Regions from separate parts of the Homo sapiens genome. Here region 1 is linked to region 2. A link means that fine-mapping ties the variant in region 2 to the expression of a gene that starts in the linked region. Tissue or cell type: naive CD4 T cells. Region 2 holds a variant in brackets; the other region holds the start of a gene. All regions are shown on one strand. Distances are between the middles of the regions.

Region 1 (2,614 bases), 200 kb before region 2:
ACTAAACTCTTTTCCCCTCATCTACTCTCTCCACAGTAATATGGCAAATATTTACATCTCTTTAAAACATGTACTAGCTGGGCCAGGTGACTGACACTTGTAATCCCAGGATTTTGGGAGGTTGAGGAAGGAGGATCACTCGAGGCCAGGAGTTTGAGACCAACCTGAGCAATACAATGAGACCCTGACTCTACAAAAAATTTAAAAATTAGCCAGGTGTGGTGGCATGTGCCTGGATCCCTTGAGACCAGGAGTTCCAGGCTGCAGTGAACTATGATGGAAACCCTGCACTCCAGCCTAGGAGACAGAGCAAGACCGTGTCTCAAAAAACAGAAAGACATGTACTAACTCATTAATCCTCAGGACAACCCTAAGGGAGTACTATTATCAGTCCCTAAAATGGTGAACACCGTTGAAAAGGCACTGGCACAGAGTGGTTAAGTAACTTGCTCCAAGTCACAGAGCCAGTAAATAGGGGGAAGGTGGTCTGAGGCCAGAGCCGAGGTTAAGGACTGTCAGAGCCAAGGCTGTGACCAAGGCGAGCCCGGCAAGGACAGGACCCTCGGCCTCGCCCACTAAGAAGCAGACATTTACAGAATTCCTAAGACGCCGCGTTCCATTTCGTTTTTAAGGAGTCCGATCACATGCGAAGCGCCCCTGCGTCTTAAGCCCAGCTTTTGGAAGGCACTGTCCCTTTCTAAGGGAACTATGGGTCCTTATTTCAGGACTGAGATTTAACATTTCAGTTTTTCGTTTCTGAGACAGAGTTTCACTCTTGTTGCCCAGGCTGGAGTGGCGCGATCTCGGCTCACTGCAACCTCCGCCTCCTGGGGGTTCAGGAGATTCTCCTGCCTCAGCCTTCTGAGTAGCTGGGATCACTGGCGCGCGACACCACGCCCGACTAATTTTGTATTTTTAGTAGAGACGGGGTTTCGCCATGTTGGTCAGGCTGGTCTCGAACTCCTGACCTCAGATGATCCACCCGCTTCGGCCTTCCAAAGTGCTGGGATTACAGGTGTGAGCCACCGCGCCCGGCTTAACATTTCAGTTTTTAAAAGTAGGAGCTGCATAAAGCAGGTGGCAGAAACAAGCAGCAGTGCAGGACGCCCGCCAACCTCCGTCCCCACGCACGAGTTCGAGAAGAGCCCGGAACAAGCTCCCCTGCGACTCTCCGGGAATACAGACCCCCTCCCCGGGATCCGGCCGGGGCTGGGCTCCGCGGCTCTCCCGCCCGGCCCTGGACCCCGCGCCCGGCTCCAGCGCACGAGGCTCCCGCCCCCCGCGGCTGCGGAAGCCCCTCCCCACGGGCGCCCGAGTCTCCCGCGCACCCGCACCTCCGCCGGGGCAACCTAGCAGCTCCTCCGGACGCCGAGGCCCGCGCCTCCCGCCCGCCAGGCCCACTTCCGGCCGCCTGCGGCCGCGGCCCGCCGGGGAACGGCCTAGAGATTCGAAACCTTTCAGGCCGACCCCAGCTCGCCCGCCTCCCTCCGCTGGCCCGCACCTACCGAGCACCAGGAGAGCCATGCCGAGCGCCGGGCTACGTGCAGTCCCCACCGCCGCCGCCGCTTCAGCCCTGCAGCGTGCCGCACGCCGCGCCCCCGCGCCCACGTCCCGCCCCAGGCCAGTCCGGTGGTCCGAGGGGCGGCCGCGCGGGGGCGGGCCGGAAGGCGCTCGCCAAGCCGTGGCTGCGGCTCATTGGTCCGGGCGGACATCGCTCACTCACATATCCAATGGGAGGCGGCCGGGTAGAGGTTACCGGTTTGGTTTTTTTTCACGGGGGCGGTGGCGAGCAGCGGAAGGCGGGGCCTGCTGGGGGCGGGGCTGGCAGTCTCGGCTCGCACCGCCTCAGCTCCTCCGGGCCCTCTCGGGGTGCTGCTCGGAGGGGAGTCCAGTACTGGGCGTTTTTACCTTAGTTCCTTATTCTGCACCCCCCCACCCCGCCTCCTCCTTGCCTGTGTGCGCCCCCACCCTCTTTATCCCGGGGGAGCGTGACTCGGCCTCAGGGCACCCACGGTCCTGGGAGCTGACAGGGAATTCCTCTTGTGCCCGACGAATATTCCGTGGACACACATTTGCTCCGCACGCGCTGTCTGCAATGTAATTCGACAAGTTTCTATTTTGTTGAATTACTTTTGAAAGTTCTTCCGTCCAGGGCGCATGGCTCTGCAGAGCCTTCTCCTCCTTCTCTGGAGAACCCCAGGGACTTAAGCGGTAGCCTCCTCGCTGACAGGGTCTCCACTTTGTCCTGGGGGGCGAGGGGGCTGGCAATGCGCTCACGTGGGTGTGTGCTTTGTAAAATATGCAAAAGTGAAAAAAAATATGTTTGTGGGGCAGGCTGGCGAGCAGTGGCATGATACAGTTCACTGCAGCCTTGAACTCCTGGGCTGCAGTGAGCCTCCTGCCTCGGCCTCCCAAAGTGCTGGGATCACAGGCATGGGCCACCACGCCCGGCAAAAGTAAAAATTTTTTTGCTTTTTTTTGAGATGGAGTTTTGCCCTTGTTGCCCAGGCTGGAGTGCAAAGGCGGGGTCTTGGCTCACTGCAACCTCTGCCTCCCGGGTTCAAGCGATTCTCTTGCCTCAGCTTCCCGAGAAGCTGGGATGACAGGTGCATGT
Region 2 (2,756 bases):
GAAAGTGGATGAGGAAATCAGAAGAGAGCCATCAGAGAGCAACACGAGAACTCATCCAACACCATCGGCCTTGAGGCTGGAGGAAGGGAGATGAGCAAGTGCGTCCAGAAGCTGCAAACGGTGAGGCTCCCACTCTCCCCTGCAGCCTCCAGGGAGGGATGCGCGTTGATTTGAGCCCAGTGAGATGTGTGCTGGATTTCTACTCTACAGAACTGTAAGCTAGTCACTTTGTGTTGTTCCAAGCCACTACGTCTGTGGTAGGGTTAGGGTTAGAGTTGGGGTTTGGGTTATCACAGCAGCCACAGAAAAGAGGGGTCACCAAAAGAGAGGCTGCCTGCGATGGGAAAGCCATGGACCCAGGACCCTGCATTACTGGAGCCAGGTCTCTCTGTTCTAGGGGCCCGGAGACTCAGAGAGGTGGTAGTATTAGCTCTGCTTTATCAATTAAGAAACTGAAGGGCAGAGAGGTCAAAAAAACCTGCCTCAAGCTACACAGCATTCTGCGGCAGTTCTGGGATTCGAGCCCAGGCAGCCTGACTGTGGGGCTGTATTCTCATCCACTCCCTAACACTGCCTGTTGCACGATATGCTGGGTGTTGTGTAACTTATATAGCAAAATACTAGAAACAATCTTATTGTCTAACACTAGGATTAAGTATTAATAAATCATCATAAGGCATCAACTCATTGGGTTTTATGAAGGCTTTCAAATAAATATGAGCACCACGGGAAAATATTGACAACGTGAAATGAAAACAGCAGAATGCAGAATCATGCTTACCTTACGATTACATGATGACAATATGGCAAGGCCTGAAGCAGGATCATGAGGAAACAGAGACCTCTATGAGGGTGGTAGGAGCAAGCAGCCTGCGTGTCCTGTGATCCCCTGCAAATGAAGGTGGCACCATAGTTAGCAGCATGGGATGCTCAGAGAACAGAGGGAATGTGTTGCCGGACAGACGGACTGGCTCCACCAGATACCACCTATGTTCTGTAACTTCTCAGAGCCACTGTGTGTCATGTACAACGGGAGTCATAACACCACCAGGTTCATAGAGCTGTGGTAAGCGTCAAATGAGACCATGTTTGCAAAGATGTGGTGGTTCTATAAACCTCAGCTCCCCCCGTGTCTCCCTGGCTTTTAAGGTTTTTTGTTGTCGTTGT[A/T]AACATTATAACATTTTTAAAAACTAGTCCTCCAAGGTTTATTTTGGAGGATTTCTGAGACTAACTCAGGGGGAAGCAGTGATGAAGAGGCCTCAACGGTCATGATGCCCATGGACCCGTCTTCAGTTGTGTTGAGAAGGAGAGGCTGCAGGTGTTTAAAACGCACAGTGCTGATGCATTTGACACAGTGCGCTCCTGAGGCCATCGCCATGGTCTCAATAACAAATGCCCGGGTGCGGGGAGCGGGGAGGGATAGCATTGGGAGATATACCTAATGCTAGATGACGAGTCGGTGGGTGCAGCGCACCAGCATGGCACGTGTATACATATGTAACTAACCTGCACATTGTGCACATGTACCCTAAAACTTAAAGTATAATAATAATAAATAAATAAATAAATAAATAAATAAATAAATAAATAAAAAATGCCCATCATCCTGATAGTGTCCTGGGCCCTTGTCACCCCCCCTTTTCACCCTCTGCCCAATTCCCAGGCAACCCTCATCTGCTTTCAGTCAAACCGGTGGCTTCTAATCAGCAATGTTCATTTGTCGTCAGGGATGGTCACTGTCAGAGTTTATACCTTTTTTTGTAATGAAATAGGAATGAAAGCATGTCATTAAGCACTGATGGGACAAGGCAATTTAGCTACCACTGGGTTGCATATTCATAGCTGAGCCCTAATTAAATAACTGTCAAAACAACTCCTTTTCAATATCTCCTCCGGTGTGATGTGTACGCAGATAACCAGCAGACGGGTGAGCAGCTCGCAACTCTCCCAGCTGTCCCTTGACAGGTATTAGACATCCAGGTGGAGCCTGTCTGCTTTTACCCATGACCCCAACACTGGGTAGTGCTATCCCTGCTGGCAGGTGCAGGCACCCTGATTTCTGATTTCCACCTCTCTCCTTCCTCTTCCCTGGCCTTTCCTTCCTCCTTCTGCTGCAGCTCCCCTGCTGTGGAACATTCGAGAGCCATCATGCATTCAGCATGTCTCACTCTATTTAAATAGGGATGGGAAAGAGCAGCTCTCTTTTTGGCTTGTTTTGTCCTAGTCTGACCCTTCTAAGATCAGAGACGGTCCAACTCCAGGGGGCTTGAGGCCGTGTCTCTGGGTATTGTTGCTGTGGCTGGAGCGATGTGCAGAGAGGCCTTTCCAGGAGCCCCCCTACCCAGTTTATCTGAAGCCAGGTGGGGTGAGAGGTGGGTGTGCGTGCGGACTCTGACCCTGGTTTTGAGCCTCACATTAATCTTAACTACGCCTCACTATTGGGAATAGTGCCGCAATAAACATATGTGTTCATGTGTCTTTATAGCAGCATGATTTAGAATCCTTTGGGTATATACCCAGTAATAGGATGGCTGGGTCAAATGGTATTTCTAGTTGTAGATTCTTGAGGAATCGCATTAAGAGATATACCTAATGTAAATGACAAGTTAATGGGTGCAGCACACCAACATGGCACAGGTATACATATGTAACAAACCTGCACGTTGTGCATATGTACCCTAGAACTTAAAGTATAATAATAATAATAAAAAAGCCTAACTACACCTCTTTCTTCCTTCTTTCTCAGAAATCCATGT

The links. PIP is the estimated chance that this variant, and not a neighbour inherited with it, causes the effect.
Region 1: it holds the start of PDIA6, and the variant in region 2 is fine-mapped to the expression of PDIA6 in naive CD4 T cells (Schmiedel 2018, PIP 0.95).

The regions. Positions count from the first base shown.
Region 1 is chr2:10,811,173-10,813,786 of GRCh38, forward strand. It overlaps PDIA6 (protein disulfide isomerase family A member 6), which reads right to left and starts at 1,613. Exons shown (of 13, transcript NM_005742.4): 1 at 1,506-1,613. The coding sequence starts at 1,524. RefSeq lists an enhancer at 616-675 and a silencer at 1,166-1,915.
Region 2 is chr2:11,006,137-11,008,892 of GRCh38, forward strand. No RefSeq gene overlaps it. Among named protein-coding and RNA genes, the nearest start is that of KCNF1, 96 kb to the left of the region's middle. The variant A/T (reference allele first, on the strand shown) is at 1,168.